6 linked regions of the Homo sapiens genome follow. The protein of the gene in region 1 purifies or fractionates together with the protein of each later gene. This does not show direct contact. Each region holds a gene or a part of one and is shown in the gene's direction. Other genes may lie near its edges. The genes, in order: ESCO2, HP1BP3, IKBIP, MACROH2A1, CDC45 and MCM10.

Evidence for each region.
Region 2: the proteins of ESCO2 (region 1) and HP1BP3 purify together in Homo sapiens (affinity purification with mass spectrometry, with the first as the bait; one large-scale study listed by BioGRID). This does not show direct contact.
Region 3: the proteins of ESCO2 (region 1) and IKBIP purify together in Homo sapiens (affinity purification with mass spectrometry; one large-scale study listed by BioGRID and IntAct). This does not show direct contact.
Region 4: the proteins of ESCO2 (region 1) and MACROH2A1 purify together in Homo sapiens (affinity purification with mass spectrometry, with the first as the bait; one large-scale study listed by BioGRID). This does not show direct contact.
Region 5: the proteins of ESCO2 (region 1) and CDC45 purify together in Homo sapiens (affinity purification with western blotting, with the first as the bait; one study listed by BioGRID). This does not show direct contact.
Region 6: the proteins of ESCO2 (region 1) and MCM10 purify together in Homo sapiens (affinity purification with mass spectrometry, with the first as the bait; one large-scale study listed by BioGRID). This does not show direct contact.

What each region holds. Positions count from the first base shown.
Region 1 is NC_000008.11:27,788,054-27,791,553, forward strand, and holds part of ESCO2 (N-acetyltransferase ESCO2), read left to right. Parts: intron 1-793; coding exon 794-925; intron 926-3,500. UniProt on the Homo sapiens protein: Acetyltransferase required for the establishment of sister chromatid cohesion. Couples the processes of cohesion and DNA replication to ensure that only sister chromatids become paired together.
Region 2 is NC_000001.11:20,770,308-20,773,807, reverse strand, and holds part of HP1BP3 (heterochromatin protein 1-binding protein 3), read left to right. Parts: intron 1-197; coding exon 198-357; intron 358-2,734; coding exon 2,735-2,878; intron 2,879-3,500. UniProt on the Homo sapiens protein: Component of heterochromatin that maintains heterochromatin integrity during G1/S progression and regulates the duration of G1 phase to critically influence cell proliferative capacity.
Region 3 is NC_000012.12:98,634,789-98,638,288, reverse strand, and holds part of IKBIP (inhibitor of nuclear factor kappa-B kinase-interacting protein), read left to right. Parts: intron 1-3,500. UniProt on the Homo sapiens protein: Target of p53/TP53 with pro-apoptotic function.
Region 4 is NC_000005.10:135,343,732-135,347,231, reverse strand, and holds part of MACROH2A1 (core histone macro-H2A.1), read left to right. Parts: intron 1-1,174; coding exon 1,175-1,264; intron 1,265-2,551; exon of another isoform or gene 2,552-3,500. UniProt on the Homo sapiens protein: Variant histone H2A which replaces conventional H2A in a subset of nucleosomes where it represses transcription. Nucleosomes wrap and compact DNA into chromatin, limiting DNA accessibility to the cellular machineries which require DNA as a template.
Region 5 is NC_000022.11:19,507,420-19,510,919, forward strand, and holds part of CDC45 (cell division control protein 45 homolog), read left to right. Parts: coding exon 1-98; intron 99-346; coding exon 347-445; intron 446-1,110; coding exon 1,111-1,272; intron 1,273-3,500. UniProt on the Homo sapiens protein: Required for initiation of chromosomal DNA replication. Core component of CDC45-MCM-GINS (CMG) helicase, the molecular machine that unwinds template DNA during replication, and around which the replisome is built.
Region 6 is NC_000010.11:13,196,058-13,199,557, forward strand, and holds part of MCM10 (protein MCM10 homolog), read left to right. Parts: intron 1-1,565; coding exon 1,566-1,710; intron 1,711-2,631; coding exon 2,632-2,750; intron 2,751-3,500. UniProt on the Homo sapiens protein: Acts as a replication initiation factor that brings together the MCM2-7 helicase and the DNA polymerase alpha/primase complex in order to initiate DNA replication. Additionally, plays a role in preventing DNA damage during replication.

The sequences.
Region 1 (3,500 bases):
TTGCCAACCCCTGTATTAGACAGTTCAGAACTTGGTATTTTCAATGTCATTAAGCAATGTTTTATGTGACAGAATGGGAGTTGTAGGTGGTGACATTGAATATTCTTGAATTTATCTGTGCTTTTCCTGCACTCTATTTTTTGTCAACTCTTGGGTCAAATAATTTTAATATTGTTTAAAATAATTTAATATTCTTAGCTGCTTAAGGAAAAATATTGTATAATTAATATAGAAGTCCTAAAATTTTTGCCCTCCCTGTTTGAAATAAGGCTTTTTCAGGTCTTTAAGGGTTTCATTAAAAAGTTCCGTTGTTCATTTTAGCTGTAATTTCCACAATTTAATCTTATTCTTTCTTAGAACCATGAGTCTAGTAAATAATCTTGTAAAAATAAAAAAATCTTTGGTTTTTACACTGTCCATTCAAATAATTCCCTTTCATCAATTTATTGCATTTTTAGGTCTCTTGTCTCTTTTTTTTCCCCCCCCAAAGAGATGGAGTCTCACCATGTCGCCCAGACTGGTCTCTAACTCCTTGGCTCAAGTGATCCACCCACCTCAGCCTCCCAAAGTGCCGAGATTACAGGCGTGAGCCACTGTGCCTGGCCTGATCTCATTTCATTTTGTCTTGGGGGAGGGAAGGAGGATATGGTAACCAGATTTTCATTTAGTTTTTCACTTGTGTCAGCAGGAAAAAAAAAATTAGGTGAAATTTGAATGAATGGTTATAGGAACTTAATTTAGAGCTATTTGTGCTATATTTAAATGGGTTTCTTTTTTTACCCCCCAATTATAGGACGCTGGTCAGAAACATTTTGGGGCTACTGTGTGCAAGTCTTGTGGTATGATATATACTGCTTCCAACCCTGAAGATGAAATGCAGCATGTACAGCATCACCACAGGTTTCTGGAAGGAATCAAATATGTGGTGAGCCAAAACATAGTCTTTCAGTTTGTTCTAGAAGTAAAACTAAAAGAGACATTTCTTTTCCACCACCTCTACCACCCAGCCGGAAAAGTTAACTTTTAATGATGATGTTTCAAGCTTACTATCTCAATTTAAGATAAATATTTTGTAAACACTGCATTCTGAGCAGAGCTGAACAGTCCAGATATACAAAATTCAGAGACTGCAGAGATACTCTCTTCCCACTATAGTGTTGTCTTTATAGGTAGCCTTAGGAAAAAAATAGCCTTCCCATGACTTCTCCAGGTTTTTTCTGAGAGGAGAGGTCCCACCCATTTATTAAACACCTTTCAAGTCCAAACACATCCTATCATTGGCCCTATCTTTATGATTGTACCTGCTACTCAGATACATTCCTTTTTCCCTATTTTTATTGCCACGGTTAATGCCTTCACAATATTTTTAGCCTGTTTATTGAAATGGCTTGCTTTCTGGGTTCCCATAGTGCTACCAGAAATAACGTTTTAAAACATAAGTCTAGGCCGGGTGCAGTGACTCACTCCTGTAATCCCAGCATTTTGGGAGGCCGAGGTGGGTGGATCACCTGAGGTCAGGAGTTTGAGACCAGCCTGCCCAACATGGCGAAAACCTGTCTCTACTAAAAATACAAAAAATTAGCCAGGCGTGGTGGCGGGTGCCTGTAATCCCAGCTACTCGGGAGGCTGAGGCAGGAGAATCGCCTGAACCCAGGAGGTGGAGGTTGCAGTGAGCCAAGATTGTGCCACTGCACTCTAGCCTGGGTGACAAGAGCAAAACTCCATCTCAAAAAAAAAAAAAAAAAGCCATAGATGAAACATAAGTCTAGTATGATTCTACATACTTCTGGAAAGAAAAAGTTCCCACCAGAAGTTTGGTGCTCTTTAATCTGGCCTCAACCTTTCCTATATATGTGCATATAAAATACATACAAAAGAGAAAGTGTGTATGTGTGTAGTTTAAATTCTTGCCCTCTCTGATCTGATCTCTACATCAGCCAGAAAGTTCTTTCTAAAACATAGGTTCTGACATTGTCTGCTTCAAATTTGACAGCTTTCTGTTGCACTAGGAATAAAACCCAGACTCCTTACCTTGGCTGACAGATCTCTTCATATTTGGCCCCTGCCCACCTTGTCACATGACACATTCCCTCTCCAGCTCTAAGCTCCTGCCGCTGGAATAAGCCACATTCTCTGATGAAGCCAGACTATACCATACGGGATTTCTTTCTTTAATTTGTGGAAACATACTGGGCATGTTATCCTTTATATATTTTGAATATCATTCCTGGGTTACAAATACATTCTCCCTGTCCCTTTTTTTAAGGTTTGAATTTATATTTTTGATATAGTAATACTTTCACATGATTCAAATTTCACAGAATGCAAAAGTATATCCAGTGAAAAGTGTTTCTCCATACCCCTTCCAGAAACCTCGTTCCCCTATCTATAGGCATCCAGCATTAACAGATTCATCTATATATCTTTCAGAGATATTTTCTGCATATACAAGCAAATACCATTACTTGGATTTTTTTAACCTTTTTGTGGTGTATATTGCTACAAAGAAAACATTTTTATTTAGCTAGTTTGTGACCTTTGGTTTCTTAAGTCAGGAACATCATCTCAGTCCCAAAATTAGTAAGTTTTTCCTATATTTAAAAAAATTTATAGCTATAAATTTTATATTTAGACATTTAATCCACTGGAATTTTTTCAAGACATAGTGTTAGAGATGGATCCTTATATTTTTCCTAAAGGACTGCAAAGTGTGCCAACATTACTGTTTGACTAGTTTATCTTCCACACTGATTAGCAATGCCACGTTTAATGCATACCAAATTCCCACATATAAATGGGTTTGTTATTGGACACTTCTGCACCATCCATTTGTTCCTGTGCTAGTGCCATACTTTTATAAATGTAGCTTCATACTGTATAGTTAGGTAAGTTCCCTTTCATCCTTCTCTGTAAAAAATGTCTTGACTTTTTCTGCACATTTACTCTTTCAATTAAAAAGCCTATCACATTCCCCCCAAATGAAAAACCTATTCGAATTTTTATTCAAACTAGTCAAACTAATGCCATTTTCTCTAGAGAAAAAAAATCTTAGTATAACTTAGGAACTTAGTATAGCACATACTATTATATAAACTTAGTATATACTGTAGTATAAACCTAGTGTATACTTAGAAACTTAGTATACCTCTGATTGATTCATATCTTTGATGTCTTTCAGGAACATTTTATAGTTTTGTCATGGATCTTATTAAATTTATTTCTAATATTTCAACCTCATTTTTTCCAATCAGTCAGTTATACCAGATTTTTTTGCCATTCTCTGCACCTTTGCTTATTCAGTTAGTTGCCTTAGCCTGAAGGCAAGTTAACCACCTTCCCCATTATGCTCACTGACATCTTACCAAGGTTTTTAAACCCTTTTCAGTACCATAATATTTCAGTATCATTCAAAGACTAGGGCCACATGCCAAAGCACTATGCTGGGGGTTGAGATTAAAATAGTTGTAAGACTGCACCCATCTGTGGTCTTGTCAAGCATA
Region 2 (3,500 bases), on another chromosome or scaffold:
ACCTTTTTAATTCATTTATAGTACCCAGTTTTTAAAGAAGATTTATTTTGTAAAATTTTGCTTATGGTACATGTCATCTTAGCCTGTAAATAAATTAAAGCATTAATTTTTATCCCTCCCTGGTCTTTTCCTCCTTCTGACTTTATACGTCTTTCTAGAGAGCTTATCTTCTATAATAACAATTCTTTGTTTTAAAGTGAGAAAGATCAGTCTAAAGAAAAGGAGAAGAAAGTGAAAAAAACAATTCCTTCCTGGGCTACCCTTTCTGCCAGCCAGCTAGCCAGGGCCCAGAAACAAACACCGATGGCTTCTTCCCCACGTCCCAAGATGGATGCAATCTTAACTGAGGCCATTAAGGCAAGTTTTTATTTCAAGCAATTCATCTTAGATTTATTATGTTCATTTTTTTCTTATTTGAAAATGGCATATATCTGTCTAGACATCATAAATCTTGTTCTGCTTCCTAAAGGAGTTTTAAAGAGAGGAAAGTCATTATAAGTTCATGTTTTTCTAATATAATCACATTTGGTGAACACTGTTAATTTTTTTAAAAAAATTATATTTAATATAGCAAATATTTTAACTTTAGAATTTTTAAATGCAGTTTATCGATTAAGTACAGTTTTTATTTGAAGGCTGAAAATGTTAATTCATTGAACAAACATTTAAGGACTACCTTCCTCTGTTGGGCGCCCCTGCTAGTGGTGAATTAACTAAGGCTAGCAAAGTCCTTGCCCTTATAAATCTAATTGTGACTCAGTAACTGAAAAATATTGAGAATTTTTGTTTAAAAAATATCTCTAGGTTCATTTCTAAAGCTAAGTGATCTTGGTAGTGGTTATCTTTCACACCTGAACCCTGTTAATAAACACTGCTTTATTACCTAGACATTCCAAAATGCTTACAAAAATTATCCTCCTTACATAGATTTATGATTTCATTGACTTTCATTAGATGTAGTTTTCCTATTTTAATTTTTAAAGGTTATCTTCTAATTTGACATTGCCTTTATTGTATAAGTCTTTTCATTTAATTTTGCCTTGTTTAGTTCATATGATCAGATGATAAGAGGAGTTAGAACAGACCCATCTTTCAGGGACCCTGTTGTTAGGATCTGAGGCAGGACTGGGGAGACAGGGATACAGATGATTTTAACCAGAAAAGGGGGGATGTGTACGAAAAGGAGCAGCCTGGTTGTCATTCTCAGAATATGAGAAGATAGCACTAACACATAAACTGGAAAAAGGGTTTGCCTTCAGACTTCTCCCTTTACTCCTTCAAGACTTCTTATGCTCTCACCTCATTAAGAAAACTTTATTGGTCTAGATTACCTCACTGTAGTGAAATCTCTGTTCTTTGTATAGCCTTTCTTCAAGGATTTCACTTGATGACCACTCAGCCTGGGTTTGAAGGAGCAGCATCATAGTGAGGATGGAAAAAGGGCTGAAACTTTAAAATAGTGAAATAAAAAATTAAAACAATATCAATTTGGCTTAAAGAATGGTTTGAATATAATTGTGCATATTTATGGAGATGATTGATTTTATATAGATAATGTGTATTCCATGCAATATGACAAATTATTGTTTCAGACCATGGATACCATTTTCTGTATTGAACAGGAATCATGATGTCTACTACCATCTCACTGTCGGATTGGTGGAGCAAAAGATTATTTGTTTCAGCATTAGTGTTCTTTTCTGCTTGATTTTCTTTGCTCTGTGTTTTCTTTTAAGATCAGGAGTAAACCTCAGTAGGTCATTAATAGTTCAGAGACATAGACTTGAATTACATGACCCATATTAATACAACTTGTTTCGTGTTGTGCAATCTTTTCTGGACCATCTACCTGTGAGTTATTTTTCTTTGTTGTCAAAATGTATAAAAACATTCAACGAAGTTCTTATCCAATGAGAATGAATAAGTGCTACATTGATTTAATAGACACTGTGGCAGTACAAAATTGATGGACTAGCTCATTAGATAAATGACAGATGCTACTTTTGTGTGTTTCAAAATTTAAAGTATTTGATTTCAAGTCAGTGACCAGTTGGAAAACAAAATTTTAAGCATTTGAAAAAAATTAAGTATTTGCTGCCTTTGTGACATAATGAGCTACTTAATTCTTCCAGGTGCATTAGTCAAATGGAGTATAAGTAAAATAGGATGGAAATGGAAGAGGGCACATTAAATTCAAATAGAACACCTTCACTATTACCCAAAACTCTCCTTCAGCACTTTGCCATCTGTAAACCCATTTTTATGCCACTTATTCAGATTATCTTTGATTCTTCTTTCTGCTGACATTCATACAGAGCCTTCAGGGAAATGTCCTGGCATGCTCATTCCTTAAGCTCGTGCCTTAAAATGGGACAGATCTGTGATCCTGTAAGTGATAGGTTTGTTCTGCTTTTCTCATTTTGATGCCAAAGATTCATCTTCTAAATACAGAATGGAATTAAAATGGAAAGAGGTTCTTCATTATACATAGAATGTTGTTCGTGTTCAGTATGGTCTCTTAGGCTGTTTTGAACAATTTAAAATTGTAGTAGAAATATTTAGTAATTCTGTTACTTCTCTGTAGTCATTATGAACTGAAGTCTTCTGAAGTTCATTCTTCCCTACCGTTTTTGTCATCTATCATCAAATTCACTTCCAAAATAATTTATTTTGAAAATATATGTCAGGCTCTATCTAATAAAAAAAAACAACTAGTTTAATAAATCTTTTCTAGGCATGCTTCCAGAAGAGTGGTGCATCAGTGGTTGCTATTCGAAAATACATCATCCATAAGTATCCTTCTCTGGAGCTGGAGAGAAGGGGTTATCTCCTTAAACAAGCACTGAAAAGAGAATTAAATAGAGGAGTCATCAAACAGGTATTACACAATTGTTAGTAGTAAGATCATTTCATTGTGTATTAGCTTTAAGTCTACAGTTAGTAACATTTAGGCTTTTTGTGCCTTTTTTGTTAAAAATAAGTTTCATGATGATGAAATTCCTTAAGTTTAACCTAGTTGAATTATCTGAGGCTAGGTTTCGAAAATGCTGGTGCCATTAAGATAGTGTAACTTTTTTCTAGCTTACTTTGCTCTTAATTGGATATTTTTTGGGGGGCTGCTTGTGCTTGAAATCATGTAGCACTGAACATGAAAAAGAGGTAAGGAATCCTACTACTGAAACAGCAAAAATGAGGCTAGGGATGGTGGCCTACACCTGTAGTCCCAGCACCTTGGGAGGCTTAGTTGGGAGGATCACTTGAGCCCAGGAGTTCGAGACCAGCCTGGGCAACATAGCAAGACCCCTTCTCTACAAAAAATACAAAATCAGCAGGGTTTGGTGACACATGCCTCTAGTCCCAGGTACTTGGAAGGCAGAGGCAGGAGGACCGCTTGAGCCTGGGAGGTTGAGGCTATTGTGAGTTACGATCTCACCACTCCAGCCTCGGTGAGAGTGAGACCCTGTCTGAAAACAAAAAGGAATAACAGAAATAATAATTGC
Region 3 (3,500 bases), on another chromosome or scaffold:
ATAAGGTATTATCCCCACTTCACAGATGAGGAAACATCAAAGTTATTTAACTTGCCCAAAGTGGTTATACAGCTTAGTAAATGGCAGAGCTAAGGCAGTCCAGTCACCCACCTAATCAGTATGATTCGTTGCCTCCATTCGATATTAATCCCCAACAAAAGGCCAAGATCCTAGAAATAGAAATCCCCAAGTCCAGAATTACTTATAGTTCTTTTCTTCCTTCTACTTGAAGGTATACCCTTTAGCAGACCCTAATTGCTTGTTTTTCACTCTCATCTAAATGGGAAGACTGGGAACTGCTCTCACTAGAATATGCCCCTGACTCATAAAAAGGAAATAAAGGACCTTATACCCTAACATGGATGCCAGTTTGAAAGCTTAGTTTTTCAGATCTGAAGCAGCTTTCTCAGCATATTTTCTTGACTTCTAGAAAATCAGTCATCTAGGCTGGGTGCGGTGGCTCACGCCTGTAATCACTTGAACCTGGGAGGTGGAGGTTGCAGTTAGCCAAGATCATGCCACTGCACTCCAGCCTAGGCAGCAGAGCGAGACCCTGTCTCAAAAAAAGGAAAGAAAGAAAAAAGCCGGGCGCGGTGGCTCACGCCTGTAATCCCAGCACTTTGGGAGGCTGAGGCAGGCGGAACATGAGGTCAAGAGATCGAGACCATTCTGGCCAACATGGTGAAACCCCATCTCTACTAAAAATACAAAAATTAGCTGGGTGTGTTGGCACACGCCTGTAGTCCCAGCTACTCGGGAGGCTGAGGCAAGAGAATCACTTGAACTCGGGAGGCAGAGGTTGCAGTAAGCCAAAATCGTGCCACTGCACTCCAGCCTGGTGACAGAGTGAGACTCCATCTCAAAAAAAACAAAAAGAAAGAAAAATCAATCATCTTCTTTAATGTTAAATGAATTAATATTTATCAAGTACTTAGAATAGTGTCTGGCACAAATAAGGGAAAAATAAAATATATTTTAACGCAGCACAGCACATATCACTTCATTTTTTTCATCACTAGTGCTGAGTCAGCTTTGTACTTTTTTCTTATATGCACCGTTCACATGTAGCAAGGATGAATTTTTTTTTATTTTAGTAAGAGGCTAATCAAAAAAAACTACTAATTATCAGAGATGATATTTCCACTAACATGACACAGGTTGTGTTTAAAGCTTGAATTTGAAAAGAAGTTCTGAGAAAGTTCATTAATGTATTTTTTGTAATGAATCAACCTTCATACGAAAGTCTCTTATAATAATGATTTCATTCTGAATAAACTCGCTAATCTATAGTATAGATCTATGGTGGAGTATTGGATAATAAAACTAGTCCCTGAAATGAACTGTGTTTCTTCTTTTACTTTTTTTTTTTCCCCCCTGGCAGGGAGGGACAGGAAGGCGTGAGGAGGGCAACTCTTATTTCTTTAGGGTGGTCTCTTTCTTAATAAGGTCTCTATCTGCTGGTCTTAGATATCCAATACTCTGGGGGAAAAAAAAAAAATCCTAAAAGCCAGAAATGAAACAGCCAATGAAAAAAGAATTATGTTCACCCTTCCATCTCAGAGAATTAGGATAATAGTGTTTTCTAATAACCAGAAGCTTTAAAGGTTCCTATTAATTTAAACACAGGAGAAAAGTCAATCTGTGCTAATAATGTAACCTGGGATCCCGTATAATAGAAATTAGCCAGCATCATCAAAAGAAATGTATTTCCTCCAGTATTGTAAACATTTGTCTAATTTAGCTTTGGACAGTTTTGTAGCTACGGTTAGCCTAATGATGCCATTTATGAATTCAAAGCATTACCACTTTTGCAAGGATGCACAAAGTTCAGATAACTGCATTTACTCAGAAAAGTCTTTCACCTCTCCATTAATCCTTGGGATCTTTAAATGATTGCCTTTCAGTGGAAATGAATTTCACAAAACATGGTCAGTCAGTATGGTTCTAAGTTTGGCTGTGCACTTAGATTACCTGAGAAGCTGTTGAGTTTCCAACATCCAAGCCACATCCCAAGCCAATTAAATCAGAATCTTTGTGAGACCCAGGCATCAGATTTGTTAAAGCTGCCAGGTTATTACAATATGTAGCAAAGCTTTTGAACCACTTGTCTCAGGACTGTGTTTAGGCAGGTACTTATGGTTCTGCTCCATTGCGTTTTGATGACTCAATATGCAAAGAATTTCAAGTGTTTTTTTCTGAGCCTAAAGAATTGAGTTAAAGTAGACAAAATGGTATTGGATCCAAGACAATTCTTTTATGCTTGCTCATTTCAAATCCTGTATAAACAGATGTTGATTTGTTGTTTTGAAGATTGAGATAGCTTTTTGGGCTTCCACCCATAATGAAGAATAAACTCCAATTTTAGAGTGACATCTCAAGTACACCTATACGAGTCACATCACTGAGTATAACCAATTGTGCAGTTTATACACTCTGCACTGATTGTGATCTATTGTCACTTTGGCAATGGCTTTTTTCTATTTTCATACCTCTTTTCACACCTCCTGCTATTTTGCAACTTCTAATTACTATCACTTCTCTCTTCTACTCCACTGCTTTTTATCAGTCAACTCTTCTACATTTCAGTTTTAAAATACTTTTTATAGACGACTCTTGTTTCGCCTACATTTCAGCATAAAAACACCTATTTTCTAGATATTACCCAATCATGGCCTTGTGAAAAACAGTAGAGATCAAAGATCTTGTTCTAAATTTTTCACTTTGTCCTCCTCTAAAATATTTCTTGTGCATGCATCTATTACAGATATCACACCATCTTATTTGGTGGGCTGTGAATTGTGAACAAGGGCAGTGCTTTACTCATCTTTGCATGAGTTAAACCAGTACCTACCACATGAAAATCTGTCAAAAGAAACTGATAAAAGCTGCATCTAGGCTGGACATGTTGACCCACACTTGTAATCCCAGCGCTTTGGGAGGCTGAGGGGAGGATCACTTGAGGCCAGGAATTCAAGACCACCTTGGGGCTGGGCACAGTGGCTCATGCCTGTAATCCTAGCACTTTGGGAGGCCAAGGCGGGCAGATCACTGGTCAGGAGTTCAAAACCAGCCTAGCCAACATGGTGAAACCCCATCTCTACTAAAAATATTAAAAAATTGGTGGGGCGTGGTGGCAGGTGCCTTTAATCCCAGCTACTTGGGAGGCTGAGGAGGAGAATCGCTTGAACCCAGGAGGCAAAGGTTGCAGTGAACCGAGATCGTGCCATTGCACTCCAGCCTGGGCAACAAGAGCAAAACTCCATCTAAAAAAAAAAAAAAATACCGGGCGTGGTGGCTCACGCCTGTAATCCCAGCACTTTGGGAGGCCAAGGCAGGTGGATCACAAGGTCAGGAGATCGAGAGCATCCTGGCTAACACAGTGAAACCCCGTCTTTACTAAAAATACAAAAAATTAGCCAGGCGTGGTGGCAGGCGCCTGTAGTCGTAGCTACTCGGGAGGCTGAGGCAGGAGAATAGCGTGAACCCAGGAGGCGGAGCTT
Region 4 (3,500 bases), on another chromosome or scaffold:
ATTCAAAGGAGGCAAGTTTCACTAAGATAATTAACCCTGGTCATCGCAGGGTGACTCCAAAGAGAATTTGGGCTGGTGCATTCCGATGCACCTTGACCGTCCCATACCAGAATTGTGCCAGGTGCACCTGGAATTTTCCAAGACAGATGTGAATCTTAAGGGGAGTATTTTGTCCTCTTGTGAGGAAAAGTACTTTAAAATGTGCAAAACTGAGGAATCAGAGCTTAAGGAAGACTCAGACCCCATTCTGGCCAAACTTGAAAGGCTGATCTTGTTGCTAACTTTGATTGCCACTTGCTATCCCACATGAGCATCAACCCAGAGTTCTCATAGGTGTTGGTGATCTTGTTTGGGAACTTGGTTTTCACAGCAGGAACTGATTACTTAGCAAGTGCCCTAATTGAAGAAAACACATTGCTCCCAATCTCCATTGGCTTTTGTGAAAAATCTGGTCCTGAGCAGTTAGACATCCTCCTTTCCAAGCTTTTTATAGAACACAGATTAATCTTTAAGCTCTGCTTCTGATGTTGCCCTTCTTTACTGAAAACAATTCTGAATCATTAGTGTAATTAAGAAAATACCGTCTGAGGCCATTTTTATTTTGTATTTGCATATGACACCAAAGCTGCAAAACAGGAACTAAGCATGGTAATAATGCTGGTCCAAAGGTGGCCAGGTATGAACACTTCCTTCTAGGCCTGCTGCCAGGAGGAGAGCTGGCTTATTGATGGGAGCATTGTATGCTGCTGAAACCTCCTTACTTGGGGGTTCTCCCCAGAGACAGAGAAGAAAACCTAAGGCAGGCATTAGTCTTGGAAACCAGTACCAGCTAGTATCTCATGCCAATGAAAAGCATCCAGGACAAGCATGTTTGCAAAAAACAAGCATGTCCTGTCTCTTTCACATCTCTGGCACATCCATGATCACCCTGAGTCAGACCCAAATAAGGGGCAGCAGAGACAGCCAGATGAAGCAGCAATTTGAGGGTAGTAACTGGTGATGACAAAGCCCTTCTCAATTTTACTTTATTAACTTAGCCAAGGCTTAGTTCCTGTTTTGCAGCCTGATGGAAATTTAATAGATCATTTGAAGTATGTAATCACCTGACATGCTAAGTGTCTGTGTGTGCCGGAGACACAGAATGGCAACCTGACCCCACCCTGTCCTTGTCTAGGAAACACGCTGGAGAAGAAAGGTGGCAAGGAGTTTGTGGAAGCTGTCCTGGAACTCCGGAAAAAGAACGGGCCCTTGGAAGTAGCTGGAGGTGAGGTGGGAAAGCCACCGTGCTTATCTGGTTGTGACACATGCAGTATTAGGAAAGCCATTTTGTGAGAGGGCTTAGAATTCAGAGGTGTGTGGCAGCACAGCCGCATCTTCAAGATGGAGGCCAAGGACAGCCTGTAGCTTTACATCTTAGAGTTTCACCACATGCAGGTTGTCTGGGAAAATCACCTTTGCATTTTTTTTTATTACTTAAAATAGCTCCTATATGTTTGATGTCTAGATCACAAATTTTAAGAAATTATAGGAGCTGAGTTTGGTACATCTAAGAGCTGAGAGTGAGTGATACTGAGCCATCTGCAAAACTGCTGGTGAGAGATACAAATTAAAAATCTTCAGCCATCTGTGTGTGTAAGAGGAAACATATAAATACACATTTCTCATTTGCCAATTACACCTTCCCTGGTATAAGGGGAAGAAAACGACTTGGCATCTGATGTGGGGAGAATTATTGCTAAGACCTGGAGGCAGGGTACTTCTTACTGCTTCAGGCCTGAATTTAGGTGGTCATTTGGGGTGTGCAGGACAGAGCACCTCCTAAGGACCTGAGAGTCCAGTCAGTGGGGAGGCCCAGCTCCCCCACCAACTGTGTGAGGACAGATCACCCACTTCCTCACTTGGGGCTCTGGTTTTCTCTTCTTACTACCCGATTCCAATGCCTATTGTGTCTTTTAAATCCTCTGTTTTAAAAATGAATCTTAAGCTCTCTCGGAGGGTCCACCAGGCCGTGCACCTCTATTCCCAGTGACAAATGACACCCCTTCCAGGCTAGTCTCAGGATCCAGTAGGATTCCCTTTGCTGATCTGTGCCTTTGACCTCTGCTCTGCCACTTCTGTTTTACCTGCAAGGGGCATGACATACAGGGTAGTAATTATGAAGTTCTCCCAGGCAGTTCCACCAAAGTCCCACATTGTACAAGGGAAGGCATACACAGTTTTAACTACCTAGCCAGGGGCAGCTGGCCTTTCCCCAGGCCCTTTAAAACACCTGTTTGACCAGCCTGTGGGTCCTTTCCCATCGGGGTTCCAGCTTGAGTCCTGCTGGTAGCCCTTGGCACAAGGCCTGGTAGGCAGCCTGGTGCTGCCATGTACCAAACTCTGCTGGGGAAACCTCAGCCACAGCAGATGCAAACCCATTAGGTATAGCATGGTTCAAGATATTTTTGCTTGTTTCAATAACACTTTTGTTCTTGATTTTAAGGGCTATTTTAGAAACTGCTTTAAAATATTTTTGAAAGTATAAAGAGGTGAATAAAACATACTCCTGTTCCACTGTGCAAAGATAGTCACTGTTAATGTTTCTTTCCAGTCGTTTTCTATGCATAGTTTAGCCATGACTTCTCATGGGGACAAACCCACTGGTTTAATTCAACCCCCAATGTCAGGTTTTTATAGGTCAGCCCAGAGTTCTCAAGCCCAGTCACAAAGCAGAGCCAGGACTCAAATTCACACCCTGTGACTGAGCTGTTTCCACTGTACCATGAGACACTACCCACAAATCGCTCCTTCTCCAGTATCTATGACACGACCATAACAAACCATACCCCTTGGACAGATATTCCTTAAAAAAAAAAAAAGTTTCAGAAATAGCCAACCAAATACAAAAAGTTTGGATGTTTTACTTTAGCAGTGGTGTGGAGACTCTGGTGTGCTCTTGTATAGAAGCGTAGCATGCAGCTAAACCCAGTGCCCTGGAAACCTTCTTTGCAGAGCATCTGTGGACAGGGGTTCTGGAACATGCTCTGGGAGACATGGTACTTTGCAGTTTGTGGCAGACCCCAGGCCTGTGTCCTTAGATCTGGCAAGGGAAAGGCAAGTCTTTGGTGGAGATGTATAGCTAGAAAGGGGCCCCTCTTCTAGGAAAAGAAAAACACAGTTCCTTAAAAACTAATCTAATTCTGCCACAAATAAACAGGATCCGTTATTCACACAGTGAGGCCATCCTCAGCAGGGAGAAGACAATGGCAGAGTGGAGATGCTGGTCAGGTTGCTTAGCAGATCATTTAAAGCAGTTGCTTTCCTAGTAGCTTTGTCCTGAATTGGGTTTGGGAGATTTAGAGAATACATCATAGTAGAGACAAATACATCATATTGGTGTGCAAGTCGATAATTAGCACACCAGTCGACTTGAAGAAGAAGGGTTGGAAACCCAAAACAATTATTTTGAGGCTGCAAATGTTCTGACACGTTGAGTTTGCGTTCAGTTGAGTTTTGATGGA
Region 5 (3,500 bases), on another chromosome or scaffold:
CATGACAGCCTGTGCAACACCAGCTATACCGCAGCCAGGTTCAAGCTGTGGTCTGTGCATGGACAGAAGCGGCTCCAGGAGTTCCTTGCAGACATGGGGTGAGTGACTGCCTGGGCCTCTGCAGTGCCAGCCCTGGCCACCCCCAAGGGAAAAGCCCCTCTGCTTTGTTGTGACCAACTTAGTTATAAAATGCAGCCTGTTCTGCCATAAGCTCCTTGCCCTAGATCCCAGAATATCTTCTGAATGCTGGTGCGGGGACATCCTCGCTTGCCCTTGGTTTGGGTTTCTTTCCACCCTGTCGGTGTGTGGTGACCTCACTCATGTGGCTTGGGCTTGCTCTTTCCAGTCTTCCCCTGAAGCAGGTGAAGCAGAAGTTCCAGGCCATGGACATCTCCTTGAAGGAGAATTTGCGGGAAATGATTGAAGAGTCTGCAAATAAATTTGGGTAAACACACATTTTTCTGGATTTATCTTCATTACATCCAGGTTCATTAAAGTGAAGGGTTCTACTTTAACTGTGCTCCTAAAATAATGCAAAAAAAACCAACGTGCTCCTAAAATAATGCAAAAAAAACAACAACCCGAGAATGTACAAATGAGTGTTATCTGAGTCTGGCCATTCCTGAAGTCTTGAGTTCTTTTTGGGTTAAAAATAAGACTTCTTCAAGCTTGTGAGGTTTAGGATCCTAGGATCCTTGGATCCTAGGGCTGCTGTGGGACCTGTGAGGTCGACCCCAGTCTGTTTCACTGGAGACAGCAAATGGGCCACAGGGCCAGGTTCAGGTGAACTCTGCCCGACCAAGTCCATGGGCACTCCTGGAGGCCCCTGGCTTCTCCCACCCCAGCCAGCTGGCATGCTAAGGTGTGAGAGAGGACCCCACACACCCCCTAAGCCAGCCATAAAGCTGTTGACAAGAAGGCACCCGGCCACTCTGGGCTGCAGGGCTGGTATGTCTGGACGTTCTGACCTGCCTCATCCTCTGAGCAGCATGGCTGTGCTGGAAGCATTGACTTGGGCCTGTGAGGGACATTAGCACATCTGTTGGCCTGCCTGGCAGTGAGAGCTTGCCCACAATTTGAGGGTGACAGCTGTGTTTGCTCCCATGACAGGATGAAGGACATGCGCGTGCAGACTTTCAGCATTCATTTTGGGTTCAAGCACAAGTTTCTGGCCAGCGACGTGGTCTTTGCCACCATGTCTTTGATGGAGAGCCCCGAGAAGGATGGCTCAGGGACAGATCACTTCATCCAGGCTCTGGACAGCCTCTCCAGGTAGCAGGAGGGCTGTGGGTTTGCCTCATGGGGCCACCACTGGTTCTCACACTGCCCAGGGAGGTCAGTTACGGGGACCCCAGGGCTGTGGGAGTGACTGTGTCCTGCAGAAACTGCTTGGGTGAACTGGAATCACAGTGCCAGTGTGGTGTGCACCTGACACATTACCTGCCCCTCTTCAGTATTTGTCACTTTCTCTTGAATCTTTTTTGGCTTTTTTTTCTTTTTGATTTTTAAAATTTTCTCTTTTTTTACCTTTTGTATCTCTTAACAAAAGGCATTATTTGTTATGTATATTCGTTCTTGTGTTTAATCTTATAGTTGTCATTTCTCAATTTTTTAATTTTCCAATTCTTTCTTATCTCACTTCCTGAGATGTCCTATATTTTTCCATGTCTTTTCGCTTGTTTTGAAATGGAATGTGACAATTTGGATCTTTTTTTTAGCATGTCTGTCTAGTGTCAGACTAAAGACATCAGAGAAAAATATCTCCAAATACACTGAATTTATTTGGGAATTAGAAAAGAGGATTATAGTGTCTGCGATGCACAGCTATGGCAAGCCAAATATGCATCCAAAGAGAGGAGGCTAAGGGGACACTTTTATTGGCAAAAGGAGAAGTTCACGAAAGCTAGCTTGGAAACAATTCATTGGTTTCAGAGACTCAGAGCCAGAGTTGGCGTCAGTTCAGTGGTGAAGATGCATTACTGGGCAAGTGTTATATTTTAAGAGCATCTTATCTGAATTGTTGCAGTCCTAAAGAAGGGATTTCTTGTGGGGTTATTTAGAAAGTCTTTGAGTCTTTATTCCAGACATGCAAGCAGGAGCTCTCCTTGGTGCTTTCCCAGCTTTAATTTGTTTGGGCCTGTCAAAAAGTGATTTCATCCTGGGATCTGCAACTTTCACATTAGTGTACTTTCATTATCCAGAGAGGTGTTATTCTGTCCCTTATTCTCTTTTTTTCTAATAGTGACTTTGAGGGGATTTGACTTTGCTACTTCTCTCATGCTTTTTATGTATAAATTTCATTTCCCTGACTTTTTAGGAGGAGGAGGCATGATTCAGACAGCTTTTCTGGCTTCACAGAGCTGCCACTTCTGTTGCTTTTGTGCAGTGGTAAAGATGCATATGTATATATGGGGGCCTGCTTTCTGGGATTTCCTGGTTCTGCTCCCAAGCACACTTTTTTTTCCACTGCTTTATTGAGATACAATTTGCATGCCATACAATTCACCCATTTAAAATGTACAATGTGATGGCTTTTATTTATTTTATTGTTATTTTTTTAGAGACAGGGTCTCGCTCTGTTGCCCAGGGTGGAATGCAATGGCATGATCATAGCTCACAGCAGCCTTGACCTCCCAGTCTCAAGCAATCTTCCTACCTCAGCCTCTTGAGTAGCTGGGACAACAGGTGCATGCCACCACGCCTTGCTAATTTTAAAAATTTTTGTAAAGATGTATCACTATGTGGCCCAGACTGGTCTCAAATTCCTAGGCTCAAGCAATCCTTTCACCTCAGCCTCCCAAAGTGCTGGGAGGAACAGGCATGAGCCACTGTGCCCAGCCTGCAATGACTTTTAGTAGGTTGCAGTTAGGTTTTGCAAGGTTGTGCAGCAATCACCACTATCTAATTTTAGAGCATTTTTGTTGCCCCAGAGAGATCCTCCCAGCCTCTGGCAACCACCAGTCTCCCTTTTGTCTTTATGAATTGGCTGTTCTGAGCATTTCATACAAATGGGATCATATAAGATATGGTTCTTTGTGACCGGGTTCTTCACTTAGCATCATATTTGCAAGGCTCATCTATATTGTAGGATGTATCGGGATTATATGTCTTTTCCCTCGTCCGCCACCTGAGACAGAGTCTCACTCTCGCTCAGGCTGTAGTCCAGTGGCACGCTCTCGGCTCACTGCAACCTTCGCCTCCTGGGTTCAAGCAATTCTCCTGCCTCAGCCTACCGAGTAGCTGGGATTACAAACGCATGCCACCAAGCCTGGCTAATTTTTGTAGTTTTAATAGAGACGGGGTTTCACCGTGTTGTTCAGGCTGGTCTTGAACTCCTGACCTCTTGATCCACCTGCCTCGGCCTCCCAAAGTGCTGGGATTACAGGCATCAGCCACCATGCCCGGCCAGTGTCTTTTTATTATAAATAATATTCCATTGGATGGATATATTCTATTTCATTTATCCATTCATAAGTTGATGGGCATGTGGTTTGTTTCCA
Region 6 (3,500 bases), on another chromosome or scaffold:
CACCACGCCTTGGCTAATTTTTGTATTTTTTGTAGAGATGGGGGCCTCCCTTTGCTGCCCAAGCTGGTCTTGCACTCCTGGACTCAAGCAGTCCCACCTCAGCCTCCCAAAGTGCTGGGACTACAGGCATGAGCCACTGTGCCTAACCAAGAATCCTTTAAAAGAAATCTTACACAAAAGTCCAGTCCCATGACAGGTGAAAGCTGAGTTGCTGCGGCTGAAGTAGGGGTAGGGCACCCAGAGCCCCACCTGCCCACTTCCTGAGTGCCCCAATCGAGCCTCTCTCTTCCCTTAAGTTAGCAGCTGCAGCCAAATGAAGGGCAAAGCTTGCTGTATGCCAAAACCTTACCTATAATAATAACAACAGGAATACCTACAATAACCATGGCACATGTCCATATTACTCAGTACTTGTGATATGTGTGTGCCATGTATTTACTATGTTTATTTATTTATTTATATATATATTTTTTGAGATGGAGTCTCGCTCTGTCACCCAGGCTGGAATACAGTAGTCCGATCTCGCCTCACTGCATCCTCTGCCTCCTGGGTTCAATCAATTCTCTTGCCTCAGCCTCCCGAATTGCTGGGATTACAGGTGCCCACCACCATGCCTGACTAATTTTTGTATTTTTAGAAGAGACAGGGTTTCACCATGTTGGCCAGGCTGGTTTCGAACTCCTGACCTCAAGTGATCCACCTGCCTCAGCCTCCCAAAGTGCTGGGATTACAGGCATGAGCCACTGCGCCCGGCCAGGAATGTATTTGCTATGTAAAGATTCATACTTTGCAGATATTATCTTATTTCATCCATACAACCATGACCTTCAAAGGTAGGTCAATGCTATATCATCATTTCCTTCTCTTTTTTTGTGTGTTTGTTTTGAGACAGGGTCTCACTCTGTCTCCCAGGCTGGTGTACAGTGGTGCAATCACAGCTCACTGAAACCTCCATCTCCCTGGGCTCAGGTGATCCTCCCATCTCAGTCCCCTGAGTAGCTGGGACTACAGGCATGCACTACCATGCCCAGCTAATTTTGTACCATGCCCAGATGAAGTCTCACTGTGTTGCTCAGGCTGGTTTTAAACTCCCGAGCTCAAGAAATCCACCTGCTTCAGCCTCCCAAAGTGCTGGGTTTACAATGAGCTACCATGCCAAGCCCCATTTCCATTTTATACTTGAAAAATTAAGTAATTTTCCTTGGGTTACAAGCTAGTCCGTGGCAGAGCTGGCTGGAACTTTATCTTAATTCTCTCTGATTCTAAAACTTCCAAAATGGTGATGTGGCTCCTTTATGGATCTGGAAGCCTGCAGTCTTGCTGATGTCAAACTTGTTATATTTAAATAAACTAAGATTTTATTCATCAACATATAGACCTGTCTCCCATGCTATTATATTCTAGTAATTGTGTTAATAATACTAAGTAAAATTAAGATATGTTCTGCCAATTTCTGTCAGAGAACAGCCAGAATTCACTGGTTACTAATAAAAAAGGGATCCAGGTCTATAAGTGCCTCTGTCATCTTTTAGATCTTTACCTCCCTCTCATTCCCTTTTTTCTAGTTAGCTGCTATCACCAAATTAAGGGCAAAAGGCCAGGTTCTTACAAAAACAAACCCAAACAGCATTAAGAAGAAACAAAAGGACCCTCAGGACATCCTGGAGGTGAAGGAACGTGTAGAAAAAAACACCATGTTTTCTTCTCAAGGTACTGCAGTTTCACAGTTAACAGTGGGAAAGAGAAACTGTTTCTAAGGGAAATATGTTCTAAACCCAAACCAGCACCCAGATATCAAGCAATTACTTCCATTTCCTCCTATATAGAATACCTAAATAGAATTTCTATGGGTGGAACTGATTTTTTTTTTTTTTTTCATGGAGTCTTGCTCTGTTGCCAGGCTAGAGTGCAGTGGCGCAGTCTTGGCTCGCTACAGCCTCTGCCTCCTGGGTTCAAGCGATCCTCCTGCCTCAGCCTCACGAGTAAGTGGGACTACAAGCGCGCGCCACCACGCCCAGCTAATTTTTTGTATTTTTAGTATAGATGGGGTTTCACCATGTTGGCCAGGATGGCCTCGATCTCTTGACCTCATGATCCGCCCGCCTTGACCTCCCAAAGTGCTGGGATTACAGACGTGAGCTGGAACTGATTTTTTTATAATTACATTAAATTGGAATGAAATTGGGCACAATTTGAATACTTGGGAATAGGATTGCTCATTGGATCTTTGTACATATATATATTAGCATAAAGATTTACTTTGACAGAACTAGAATTCCTTTGTTTTAAATTGCCATATCTTTATTTTTAAAACTCTGAAGTTGGCAATATCATTTTAACATAATTGTCAACATTATTTACACTGTTGTTATCTGTTACTATCGTCAGCTGCCTATTTGAAGGTGAAAAAGAGATTCTATTTAGTGGTAAAATCTGCCACCACCCCACATTCTAGGCTCAGCTTCTTGGCTCACCTCTGAGAGCTTTTCCCTGCTGGGACCAGCGGGGGTAGGTCAAGTTTGAAGGGCTGGTAGGCAGAGGAGGAGGGAGTGGGAGGGAGTAGAGTTGATGAGGCGCACTGGCTTTCTGAAATTTCTTGGTCGCTGCTAATGTTTGTTCCTTGTGCCCTAGCTGAGGATGAATTGGAGCCTGCCAGGAAAAAAAGGAGAGAACAACTTGCCTATCTGGAATCTGAGGAATTTCAGAAAATCCTAAAAGCAAAATCAAAACACACAGGCATCCTGAAAGAGGTAAGAGCCCAAAAGCTCAAGGATGGTGTTGATGTCCGATGTCCTTCAAAGCCAAGGTGCTAGCTGTAGGACCAAGAATGTGTTGTTTGTTTTATTTTGTTTTTCTGAGACAGAGTCTCAGTCTGTGGCCCAGGCTGAAGTGCAGTGGCGCCATCTCGGCTCAATGCAAGCTCCGCCTCCCAGGTTCAAGCGATTCTCCTGCCTCAGCCTCCCAAGTAGCTGGGATTACAGGTGCCTGCCACCACACGAAGCAAATTTTTGTGTTTTTAGTAGGGACAGAGTTTCACCGTGTTGGCCAGGCTGATCTCTAACTCCTGACCTCAAGTGATCCTCCAGCCTTGGCCTCCCAAAGTGCTGGGATTACAGGCGTGAGCCACCATGCCCGTACCCAGCCAAGAATCTGTTTTTTACATAAATCTAAAAGTAGGTATATGTCAGTTTGTTTGAGTTTGCTTTGAAGAACAGGAGAATTTCTAATAAATTTTAGCTTTGTCCTTGTCTCTTTACTGAAGAATATCATTTGATTTAACATGACTTAAATAGATATCAATATTATAAAAATGTTTGCATTTGGTTATGGCTGTGAAATTATGTTTAAATGGCTCTACACTGCTGCTATTTTCTGCCTTGCAATATGCAAAAAGAGTTTTCCCATTCCAGTATTTTTATATTGGCATTTCAAATGCTCTAAATCAGTAGTTAACCCCATCACACCCAAGGACCCTTTTTAATAACAAGTATTTTGTATTG